Linked DNA regions of Homo sapiens: all the other regions are linked to region 3. The links come from fine-mapping of genetic effects on gene expression. A gene starts in region 3. Each other region holds a variant in brackets. All regions are shown on one strand. Distances are from middle to middle. Region 1 overlaps PCCA (propionyl-CoA carboxylase subunit alpha). Region 2 overlaps PCCA (propionyl-CoA carboxylase subunit alpha). Region 3 holds the start of PCCA (propionyl-CoA carboxylase subunit alpha).

Region 1 (4,242 bases), 29 kb before region 3:
TCATGACTTAATAAGAGGCTTAACTCCCATTTTGCTTTCTCCTGCCCTGACCAATTCCCATTGGAGTATTTTATACTGCTTCCCTATAGCCTCATCCCCTGGATTCAGGCACATTAATCTCATCATTATAAATGAATTGTTTTCCTAGGGAAAGCCTGACTTTAAGACTGCTCTAGATCAGTCTTTATTTCTCAAAGAAATTAAGGGAATTTCCTCAACAAAGAATAGGATGTCATATTGTTTTAAGACAAACCAACAATAAGCCAACTAAATAACCTGCAAATCCTCCTTAGAAACATCTAAAGACCTAGATTAAATATAACAAACATCCTTCAAATGAAGAGCTTGGCTCACAAAAAAACTACAAGGGATGAAAAAGAAAAAGGAAGCAGGGCACAACGGCATGTGCATGTAGTCCCAGCTACTCAGGAGGCTGAAGCAGGACAATCACTTGAGCCCAGGAGTTCATGGCTGTAGTTTGCTATGATCACACCACTGCACTCCAGCCTGGGCAACAGAGTAAGGCTCTGTCTCAAAAAAAAAAAAAAAAAAAGTAATCTGAAAATCTGGCTGGGCATGGTGGCTCAAACCTGTAATCCCAGCACTTTGGGAGGCTGAGGCGGGTGGATCACTTGAGGTCAGGAGTTCGAGACCAGCCTGGCCAACATGGTGAAACCCTGTCTCTACTGAAAATTCAGTAGTTTGGTGATGCATGCCTGTAAGCCCAGCTACTCGGGAGGCTGAGGCAGGAGAATCGCTTGAACCCAGGAGATGGAGGTTGCAGTGAGCTGAGATTGCGCCATTGCATTCCAGCCTGGACAACAAGAGCAAAACTCCGGCTCAAATAAATAAATAAATAAATAATATAAAAATGAAAATCAGTCTGCATCCACAAGAGCCAGTCTTGGAGAGTGAAGGTGGGAATCTCAATAATCTAGAAGATTGGGTTTTAACGATCAGAGAAAGGAAACAGATCCCGTGTGAGTTGGAGGTTTGAAGGAAACCCTTCTGTCTAAAGCCAGGAGGCTCAAAGATTACATTCTCAGTGAAAGGTTGTGGGGGAGGAATCAACCTACGAAATAGAGAGGATAAACCCTATGCTCGTATCTCTGTGGTTCAAAGTAAACGAAAATGTCTCTAGATATTAGAAACCATGAGCCTATTCAACAGGTGTGTATCTGTGTGTGTGCAATCTCATTTTGTTCTTCCCATTATCTTCAAAATTTGACAATCTTTATGCCAAAAATTTAATATAAAAATTAGTCCCAGATGAGTGATACCCTGGAGGGTGTGATGGAAACAAATATACCACCTATCCTACCTGGCCAAATCCATAACCCAAACCATCTTGAAATTCAACAACAAAAGCACCAAACATAGAATCACACACCAAAATTTAAACATGCGAGGAAACAATATGTTATGAGGAAGAGTCAGGAATAGAAATAAACACCCACAAACTTGAAATAATACAATAATATGATAGATTCTTTAAATTAAATATGCTAAAAATAAATATACTAAAGGCCTCAAATACATAAGAAAAAAGATAATACATAAAAACAGGCAGATTCAAAAAGGAGCAGAAAATCAACAGCTTACTCCACAGACAGCAAACAAGACAAATGTAACCAAAGTAATCAGGCTCAGGCAATTTTCATTATCGATGCAAAAACATTAGATGAGAGGTGGTTGAGGGACAAAATATTCACAAGGATTCAAAAACTCACCCCAAAAATTATTTAATAAAAAAAAAGAAAATGTACCATTATAATGGGAAGACCTGATGAAACCAAATGATCATACTTAGCATAACAACAGAACAATTCAACATTAAGAACCTCTTGTTATGATATTACTATTAAAAAAAATAACATTACTGGCTGGGGTACGGTGGCTCACGCCTGTAATCCTAGCACTTTGGGAGGCCAAGGCAAGAGGATCTCTTGAGCCCAGGAGTTCAAGACCAGCCTGGGAAAGATGGTGAAACCCCATCTTTACAAAAAATACAAAAATCAGCCAGGCGTGGTGGCATGCACCTGTAGTCACAACTACTTGGGAAACTAAGGTGGGAGGATCGCTTGT[G/T]CCCAGGAAGTCAGGCTGCAGTGAGTTATAATCTCACCACTGCACTCCAGCCCGGGCAACTGAGAGAGACTCTGTCACAAAAAAAAGAAAAAAAGAAAGAACATCACTTATGAAGTAGTCTTGTCAAATATTTAATCTGAATCTATTCATGAGAAAATAGATTCCATACAAAGCCAAAATATCTAAAAGCCAACATAATAAAAATCAAACAAAAAAAGAGGGAGAATAGGGGCACTATTTTAGATTAAGAGACTAAAGAGGTATAATAAACAAATGTAACTCATGAACCTTGATTGAACTGTGGATCAAAGAAAAATATTAAAAAGGACAACTGGGGTCAACTGGAAAAACCTGAATGTGGTAGGCATATTACATGATATTATAGAATAATGAGTTATTTTCTTAGGTTTCATAAGGTATTATAGATATGTAGAAAACCATACTTATTACTGCGAGATGAATAGTATTTACGGGTAAAATGCCACAATGTCTGTAACTTATTTTCTTTTTTTTTTTTTTTCTTTTTTTTTGAGATGGAGTCTTGCTCTGTCGCCCAGGCTGGACTGCAGTGGCACGATCTCAGCTCACTGCAAGCTCCGCCTCCCGGGTTCACACCATTCTCCTGCCTCAGCCTCCCAAGTAGCTGGGACCACAGGAGCCTGCCACCACGCCTGGCTAATTTTTTGTATTTTTAGTAGAGACAGGGTTTCACCGTGTTAGCCAGGATGGTCTCGATCTCCTGCCCTCATGATCTGCCCGCCTCAGCCTCCCAAAGTGCTGGGATTACAGGCGTGAGCCACTACGCCCGGCCTCTTTTTTTTTCTTTTTCCTGTCCAGGGGATTCTTTTTAATGCTGCTTTTTTTACATATATATATATACTTTAAGTTCTAGGGTACATGTGCACAACGTGCAGGTTTGTTACATAGGTATACATGTCTCATGTTGTTTTGCTGCACCCATCAACTCGTCATTTACATTAGGTATTTCCCCTAATGCTATCCCTCCCCCATCCCCCAACCCCACAACAGGACACAGTGTGTGATGTTCCCTACCCTGTGTCCAAGTGTCTTCATTGTTCAATTCCCACCTATGAGTGAGAACGTGCAGTGTTTTGTTTTCTGTCCCTGTGATAGTTTGCTGAGAATGATGGTTTCCAGCTTCATCCATGTCCTGTAACTTATTTTCAAATTGTTTAGCCAAAAAAAAAAAAAATGCACACACACAATGTACATATGGATACAAATATAAAGCAAACAAGCCAAAATGTTAACAATTGCTGAATCTAGGTGAAGGGTATACAGATACCGTTATACTGGTATATAACAGTAAACTGATACCAATATACTGGTACTACTTTTCTAATTTTTTTCATTATGTTTGAAGAAATGCTTCAGAAAAAAATATAAATGAATGACCAATAACACAAAAAAGTACTCAACATCAGTATTCATCAGGAAAATCTAAAATTAAAAACACAATGACATACTGCTTCACAACCACTTAAAAATAAAACACAAAATCAAATGGACTGAAAACACCAAGTGTTGGCAAGGACACAAAAGCACCCTGACCTAGACATTTCTGGAGGGAGTAAAATATGATACAACCATGAAGGAGAACTATTTAGCAGCTTCTTATAAATTTAAACATGCATGTATTTATTCTAGGCATCAGCAAAATACTGTCTACCCACTGGCCAAATCTGATCCAAGGGCTGTTTTTGCACAGCTCTCAAGCTAACAATAGTTTTCACATTTTTAAAGTGTTGTTAAAACAAAACAAAACAAAACAAAAAGAAGCATATGTAACAGCGACCACAGGGGCCTGCAAAATCTAAAATATATTTGCTATCCAGACAAAAATGTATTTACTTTCAAACAAAAAAAGGTTGCCAACTCCTTATCTACCCTAAGACCCAGCTACTCCACTCCTAGATATTTACCCAAAAAAAATCAAAATTATGTTCACAAAAAGACATGCAAAAGTTATACTTATAAAAATCTTGTTCATGGTATCTAAAAATTGGGGAAGGGGGGTAATTGGCCAGCTCATCCTAAAATTCACATGGAAGAGCGAAGGACCAAGAATACTGAAGACAATTTTGAAGAACATGTTGGAGGGAAGGGACCAACAGAGGTAAACTGCATAATCATCTC
Region 2 (4,242 bases), 290 kb before region 3:
TGGGCAACAGAGTGAGCTCTGTCTCAAAAAAAAAAAAAAAAATCAAACTTTCAAAGTGCTCTTTAAATATTAAAATAAACTATGGTGGAATGTTTTCTTAGTCAAGAAATCCAGAACAAAACATATGGTGGTAGAACAAAGGAAAAAGGGTGAGTTATAGCAGAGAAGGAAAACGTCAAACAATGCGTATATAATTATTTCTTATTATGCATCCATATGTAGTTATTATTTTCTATTCTTAGTTCATCACCATATTCTTTCTTTGAGGAGAAAAATATAGGGTGGTAATTTCAATTATATGAATACTACAAAACAATTCCCTCCTTCCACCTCAAGCATCTAAGATGAAACAATTTTGCATCAACCAAAACAAACATTATAAAGAAAACAAAATGTAGCACAAACTCTCTTGTACACAAAAGCTTACCTATCTCAAATCTTTATTTTTTTTTTTCGACACGGGGTCCAGGATTTCACTCTCACCCAGGCTAGAGTGCAGTGGTGCAATCATGGCTCACTGCAGCCTCAATCTCCCAGGCTCAAAGCATCTTCCCCCTTGGGCCTCCTGAGTAGCTGAGGCTACAGGCGTGTATCACCATGACCGGCTAATCATATAAAATTTTTTTTGTTGCCAGGGCTGGTCTAGACCTCCTGGGCTCAAGTGATCCTCCCGCCTTAGCCTCTCAATGTGCTGGGATTACAGGCGTGAGCCACGCACCCAGTCTCAAATCTTATATTGCTCTCAAAAAATATTGCTTGGATAAAACTTGAAATCACAGGCTGGGCACGGTGGCTCATGCCTGTAATCCCAGCACTTTGAGAGGCCAAGGTGGGCAGATGGCTTGAACCCAGGAGTTCAAGACCAGCCTAGGCAACATGGCGAAAACCCTGTCACTACAAAAAATATAAAAATTAGCCAGACATGGTAGCATGCCCCTGTAGTCTCAGCTACTTGGGGGACTGAGGTGCTCTCCCCCATGCTACCACATTCTAATGTTTTTCCTCATTTATTTATACAATAATTTTGAGGCAAGTTCTGGCTTATATATACTAAAAAATATGTTCTAAGCTGTGACTCATCAGTCATCTCCCCCAAGAGGAACTTCTTTCATCTTCCCCCAGATCCTTCCCTTCCCCCAAGCAGTTGAGTGCCTTTCTTTCTTTCTCATAGATTTAACTGGTTGATGACACCTCTATTAATGCATTTATTACATTATTTTAATTACTTCCAACTCTGCCTTCCCTTATAAGTACAGATTGTTTACATGGATATCTCCAAGCCCAACTGCCTTTAATTTATTTTTTCCCTGACAAAATATTATATGTTGAATTAGCGATTTTTCATTGCTTGCTTGGAATATGTTCTAGAAGTAAAAATAGTAGACCAAAGAATATGAATGTTTCTAAAGGTCTCTGATAAATGTTATCATATATAACCATTTAATTCATCTTTAAATTACTGACATGTAGGCCAACAACTATTGTTTGATATTGATACAATGATAGAGACAGGAGGCAGAGAAATTCTAGGCAGACAGGTGTGGGTCCCTGGTGAAGTTCCACCCTCAAGCTGAAAAGCCTGAGACCGTGGCCCAAAGTGAGAACTTCTCTCCCTGTTTTCCAGCTCAAATGTTGCCTTTTCCTAAACTACCCATGGCCCCACCCCACCTCATCCTGTGCCTATAAAGACCCCAGACTCAATCAGCAGAGAGGAGAAGCAGCTGAATGTTGGAGAGAAGGGACTTGACTTCAGAGGGACAGCTTGATGGAGTAACCGGAGAAAATCCAGCCGGACTTCAGGGGAAGATCACCTACCCCTCCTCTGTCCCCTTTTCAGCTCCCCTCTCTTCCCACTGAGAGCCACTTTCATCGGCAATAAAATCATTCCTGCATTTACCATCCTTCAATTAGTTCGTGTGACCTCATTTTTCCTGGACACCAGACAAGAGTTCAGGAGCCATGTGTGTGGATACAAAAGGTTGTTACGCTGGCCCTTTGCCCTCGCTGGTGGAGGGCAGCAGCAGGCCAACTGAGCTGTTAACACTTAAGCCGCCTGTGGAGAGCAGAGCTAAAAGAGCACTGTAACATGCCCTCTGGGGCTTTGGGAGTCACAGGCACCCCTCCTGGATGCTGCCATGGGGCCTGCACAGAGTTCGCTCCTGCTGGCGCCCAAAAGCACTTGCTCTGGTTCCTGCACCCACTCACCTGTGCACTCCCTCCTACGAGGTGTGGAAGGCAACAGGTGCAAATGAGTGGAGTTTGATCCCACTGGCGCCAAAACGGCTGGTCAGTTCCAGTGCTCCTGCACTACAGTTCCCGCCTCCTTCGCTCGTGTGCTCCCTCCCACAAGGAGTTGAGAGCTATAGGCTGATTAAAGGAGGCACCCCGTGGCAAAGCGGTCC[C/T]GCAAAGGGGTCAGGGAAATAACTTGCTTCAATATTATTTGAAAGGTAAGATATATTCACCATAGTAATAAAGAAATACATAAATACTTATATAAATATTCAAGATTAAATACTCCTGATACAACAGAGCCAAGGTTCTGAATAACCCAGATATTTAACCATTTGAGGAAATGCCATCCTGTTTTCCAAAGCAGCTGCACCCTTTTACGTTCCCACCAATAGCATTTGAAGGTTTCAATTTCTCCACCTCTTTGCCAACACTTTTTTTTTTTTTTTTTTGAGACGGAGTCTCGCTCTATCGCCCAGGCTGGAGTGCAGTGTGGCGATCTCGGCTCACTGCAAGCTCCACCTCCCGGGTTCATGCCATTCTCCTGCCTCAGCCTCCCAAGGAGCTGGGACTACAGGCGCCCATCACCATGCCCCAGCTAATTTTGTTTTTGTATTTTTAGTAGAGACGGGGTTTCACTGTGTTAGCCAAGACAGTCTCCATCTCCTGACCTCGTGATCCACCTGCCTCAGCCTCCCAAAGTGCTGGGATTACAGGCGTGAGCCACCGCACCTGGCCTACCAACACTTGTTATTACCTGACTTTTTAAAGTAGAGCTATGTAGTGGGTACAAAGGACAATCTCACTGTGGTTTTGATTTGCATCTGGATCCCTCCATGCCTTATGATGCAGAACATCTCTATATGTGCTTACCGGCAATTGCATATATTCTTTGGAGAAACGTCTATTCAGATCTTTTGCCTATTTTTAGAGTGGGCTGTTTTTTATTGTTAAGTTGTAAGTGTTCTTTATGTATTTTAAACACAAGTGCTTTACTGAAAATTTCATTTGCAAATATTTTTTCCCATTCTCTGGTTTGTCTTCAATTTCCTGTTAGTGTCCTTTGAAGCAAACATTTTAATCTTGATGTTGAACAATTCATCTATTTTTAAAGATGTTTTGCCTCTTATATTTAGGTCTTCAATCCATTTTGGATTAATTTTTGTATACTAATCAATATGAGGTAGGGTTTCTACTTCATTCCTTTACATGTGAACCCAGGTGTTTCGACACCATTTGTTGAAGAGATTATTCTTTTTACCATTGAATTATTTTGGCACCTTTGTCAAAGATCAATTGACCATATATTTTTGGGCTTATTTCTGGATTCTCAATTCTATTCTGTTGATTTATATGACAATCATTTTGCAAGTACTACACTGTATTTGATTACAAGGCTGTTTGTAGTAACTTCTGAAAGATGGAAATATGATTTATCCAATTCTGGATTTTTGTGGGTTTGTTTGTTTGGTTGGTTTTGAGACAGAGTTTTGCTCTGTATCCCAGGCTGGAGTGCAGTGGTGTGATCAGAGCTCACTGCAACCTCCACCTCCTGGGCTTAAGCTATCCTCCAACCCCAGCCTTCTAGGTAGCTGGGACTAGAGGCACATGCTACCACCATCAGCTAAAAAAAACTTTTTTGTAGAGATGGGGGCCTCACTATATTTCTCAGGCTGGTCTCGAACTCTTGGGCTCAAGTCATCCTCCTGCCTTGGCCTCCCAAAGTGCTGGGATTACAGGTCTGAGCCAATGTGACTGGCGTGTTTTTTTGTTTTTTCGTGTGTGTCTGTGTGTGTGTGTGTGTGTGTTTAGATTACTTTGGCTATTCTGGGTCCCTTAAGTTTCCATATTTTCCAAATTTTAGGATCAGCTTGTCAATTTCTGATAAAAATACAGCTTGGACTTCGGCAGGAATTGTGTTGCATCTTTAGACTAATTTGGGAATTACATGATTTGGGTGTGTCCCCACCCAAATTGCATCTTGAATTGTAGCTCCCATAATTCCCACATGTG
Region 3 (4,242 bases):
CTCTCCAATCTAAAATGTCAGTGTCATCCCTCCCACCTCCAACATCAATGTCTTCCCACTGCTCTAAGACAAACACCAAACCTCATAATGTGATCTATAAGAGCCAGATGGTCTGACTCCTGCCAGCTTCCCCAACACCATCTACTCTCTGCATCAGAGCCTCTGTAGGCTTTTTTCAGTTCTTCTAACCTGTCATTCCCTCTGGCCACAGGACCTTTGCATACACTGCTCTCTCACCTATAACATTCATCTCTGTTTGTTAGAAAAGGTCACTTCATCCTTCAAAACTTGTCTCAATTTTCAGTTCCAAAGGAAAACACTCCCTTACCGTAGATAGCATAGTATGATTAAGAGCACAGGTTCTGGAGTTCTAAATCCTGTTTGCCACTTATTGGCACTATAGCTTCGAGCAAGTCACATTAACACTCAGTGCCTCACTTTCATCTTCTGTAAATGGGGGACATACGACTGTTGTGAGATTGAATAAATTAGTTCAAGCAAAGCAACAGAACAGTATCTAGAACACAGAATTCAAAATCTTGGCTTGGTCAAATCCCTCTATTTTATTTTCTTATAGCACCCGGGCATCTCCCCTAATACCATTTTACACTTGTTACAGTCTCCCTACTAGAGTAAAATTTCTAAGAAAGCAGAAACCATATTCATTCCCCAGAAGTGGAAGACAGGAGATATTCAGTAAATATTTGTTGAAAAAAATAGCTACAAGGACGAAGCTGACGCCCAAGGAAGAGACCTGTCCAATATACAAAGCCTCATGCGCCTGACCCCAAAGCCCACACTTTACACCATACTAACTTGCCTCCTATGTAAATGCATAAGTCTTACAGCTGCAATTGAAGTGGCCAACACAGATGAACAGAATGATAAAGATTAAAGAACACTAAACTGTATGGGAACACAGAAAACAGTGAAAGTCCGCACGCTGAATTGGACACAAAACAAACATAGGTGCCACTCACTTCCATGTCGATAAGCTCCAGCTCTCATACTGCCCACCTGGGGCTCGGTTCCCTCCTCTTTAAAGAGTAGGATGGGGCAGGTCGTCTCTAAAGTGTCTTCAACGTCTAAAATTAAATGACTATAAATCAAGTTATGTGGCAATGTTTTAATAATTATTTTTTAAAAGGAAGTTTAACAAGCACACTGAACCAGCTGACAGATGGTTTTCAGGGGACCTTCATTTTAAAGAATGTGTTCAAGTGCCTCAACAAACCTTATAAAGTAGGTTAGGTGGTCTGTGCCCCAGAATTAACGACAGACTCGACATTGACTGGAGACAGAGCTCAGAAGCACACACAAGCACTCCAACCTGTTTGTCAATCTGCCATCATGACAGCCTAGGTATACAGAACAGTCATGAAATGTGTTTAGAACAGTGCCAAAATCAGGCTCACCACTATACCGAAAAGGAAAGTAAGTTCACGGGATGCATTTGGTACACAGTAGACTGGGGTGTCATACAATTAAAACAGGCTTTCAAATGAAACGTAAAATCTATTGGCAGTCCTGACATGGTATAATACTTTAAAAGATAAGACAAACTCACAACCCTAACACTACTTAAGCAACAGTTCACAGTGTCCCTTCAAAAATGCTGGAAAGAGGCAACAGAACACGGAAACTATAAGGACACCTAAAAAGACACCCTGGAAAGCTTAAGACAAAGCCAATGCCGCGGGGCCCTGGAAGCAGACCTCGAGCAATATGCCTGCCCAAAGCCATCAGCCGCCTCGGAGGGCGTGCGGGCACCCAACTGCCTCTGCCCTAGGCCTCTCTGCTCCGCAGGATCCCCGCGAGGAACAGCTGCAACGAGGGATGCCTCCTGAGCCCGCTGCCACGCGAACTCCGGGAGGGAGGAAAGCAAGCGGTGTAGCTGATGCGGAACCGGGGCGCGGGGGCAGCCGGACCCAGCCAGCGCTCTCCCGGCGCCAGCCGCCCAGAGGCGGCACGGCTAGAAGCCCAGTGAAGCCCGGACCCGCGAGGCCCCGTTGCTCCTCACCTTCAGGGTCCGCAGCGCCGCGCTCAGCATCAGCTGCTGCGGCGGCCACCGCCCACGCCGTCCGGCAGCGACCAGCGGTGCTGTCCCGACCCAGAACCCCGCCATTGTTGTCCCCGCAGACCGCCCCTCTGCTGACCTCTCACACAGCCGGAGGGGGTGGAGAAGGGGAGCGCAGGAGCTCCGGCAAATCACGAGCCAGAAACCCGATGCCCCGCCCCCTAACTTGCGGAAAGGGGAGGGTGAGTGGTCGGCCAGATCCGCCGGATCCGGGATCCGGGAGTCGCGCTAGGACCTGGAGGGCTAGTCGGCGGGCTGCGCGTCCGGCCGCTAGCTGAGCTGGAGGCCACCGGCCAGAGCCGACCCCAGGAGTGAGAGAGACAGGGGCGTGCGTGAGTTCCGGCGGCCTGCACCGGGCAAACCCCGTACCTTCCCAGCATCGGCTCAGCAACCCACGTGCATCCAGGCCGGTCAATGTCATTGAGTCACCTCCGCGCCTTGGCCACCCTGGAGTCCCGAGAATCCGAAGTTCCAGACAAATGCCCAAACTACATTCCTGCATGTTCGAAAGCGTAAATTGCAAAGCACAAATCCAGGTAAGGTTTTTAACGACTGTAATAACACATAAAAAGTTCTAGGTCTGGAAATCAGAGATCCGAGCTCAAGTCCTACCTCTGGCACTTAATATGTGTGTGTGAAAGAAATTAGCCACAACTAGAGTCAGTCTTTGTTGCTCGCAAGCAGAAACCCTTGTTAGTACAACTACTGGCCAGGCGCAGTGGCTCACGCCTGTAATCCCAGCACTCTGGGAGGCCGAGGCGGGAGGATAACCTGAGGTCAGGAGTTGGAGACCAGCCTGGACAACATGCCGAAACCCCGTCTCTACTAAAAAATACAAAAATTAGCTGGGCGTGGTGGCGCACTCCTGTAATCCCAGTTACTCGGGAGGAGGCTGAGGCAGGAGAATTGCTTGAACCCTGGAGGTGGAGGTTGCAGTGAGCCGGATCATGCCACTACACTCCAGCCTGGGTGACAGAGCAAACTCCGTTTCGAAAAATAAAATAAAAATTAGTACAACTATTAAGGGCCGGGCCGTGTGCTAGAGCCTCAGATTCCCTCTTACTTGAGAGTTTACAAGAACCTTAATGGAGTATATATTATTTCCATTTGGAGAAACTGAAGCTGTAGCAGGGTAAAGTCACTCAGCGAGTAAAAGGTCAAACTAGGGTTTGAACCCAAATCTGGCTGCCTTGAGGGACTGGGCTCATGTTTTGCTATATTATGGAAATTTTAAAATATATACAAAAGAGATAAAATTGTACTATGATCACCCAGATACCCATTACACCGCGTCAATGAATCAACATTTTGTCAATCTTGTTTCATCTATTCCCCTTTTTATTTTGTGCAGGAATATTTTAAAGCAAATCTAAGACATCAGACCACCTCACCTATAAACACATCAGTATTGGGGGTTCTCCTCTTAACTACTTTGCATCTCCTGCAGAGTCACCTTGAGAGAGTTACAAAGCTAGGAATGGCCTAGAGTACACTACAGCATGGTAAATGCCCAAAGAGAGAGAAATAAAATGGGGATATCAGAAAGGTGACATTTAATGGAATTTTAGAATGTAAGTAGGGACTTTTGTGACAAAATGAAAAGGATTATCAATTTTACAGGACTTCTCACTTATGTACCTCAGTCTTCATTCATTTTCTACCTGGGAAACTTGCTTTTCTTTTTTCTTTTGTTTTTTGTCTTTTCCCCATGTTTTACCCTTTGGATTAGTTTTCCTTAGGCCCTGTTTGTTTTTCTTATAGGAGTTCTTTTTATGAAAGGCACTTGTAGCAGAAACTGCTTCTCATGCTATCCATTCTCCATGCATTACTTTAGTAAGAGTGCCCCTGAGATCTAGCTGGGTACATGGCCACCCAGCGAAAGGCTGCAATAGCTAGCCTCCCTTACAACGAGGTGTAGCGCCATGACTAAGGTCTGGAATGTAAGGACTGTGCCCTCCATGCCCTCTTCTTTCTTACCTAAACAAAGATCTACATTTCCCAACTCCCACTGCAGCAAGGGTGCTTACCAAGATTTGGTTACTAAGTTTTGGCCAATGGGACATAAGCACAAGTGACATAGACAACTTTTGGGTTATACCTTTAAAGGGAAAGGCTTGCTTTCCACTTGCCCTTCTCCTCTTTCCAGTTTGCCAGAATGTGGACAC

What was found. PIP is the estimated chance that this variant, and not a neighbour inherited with it, causes the effect.
Region 1: its variant is the best candidate, but not a certain one, in a credible set for the expression of PCCA in whole blood (TOPMed, PIP 0.54).
Region 2: its variant is the best candidate, but not a certain one, in a credible set for the expression of PCCA in whole blood (TOPMed, PIP 0.72).

Annotation. Positions count from the first base shown.
Region 1 is chr13:100,116,489-100,120,730 of GRCh38, reverse strand. The region is part of intron 4 of PCCA (propionyl-CoA carboxylase subunit alpha); the gene reads right to left. Among named protein-coding and RNA genes, the nearest start is that of PCCA, 30 kb to the right of the region's middle. The variant G/T (reference allele first, on the strand shown) is at 2,086.
Region 2 is chr13:100,379,828-100,384,069 of GRCh38, reverse strand. All of the region lies in intron 19 of PCCA (propionyl-CoA carboxylase subunit alpha), which reads right to left. Among named protein-coding and RNA genes, the nearest start is that of PCCA-AS1, 99 kb to the left of the region's middle. The variant C/T (reference allele first, on the strand shown) is at 2,403.
Region 3 is chr13:100,087,004-100,091,245 of GRCh38, reverse strand. PCCA (propionyl-CoA carboxylase subunit alpha) reads right to left here and starts at 2,153. Exons shown (of 24, transcript NM_000282.4): 1 at 2,021-2,153. The coding sequence starts at 2,125. PCCA-DT (PCCA divergent transcript) reads left to right here and starts at 2,303. Exons shown (of 2, transcript NR_132422.1): 1 at 2,303-2,613. RefSeq lists a silencer at 1,824-2,003 and enhancers at 2,284-2,543, 2,574-2,623.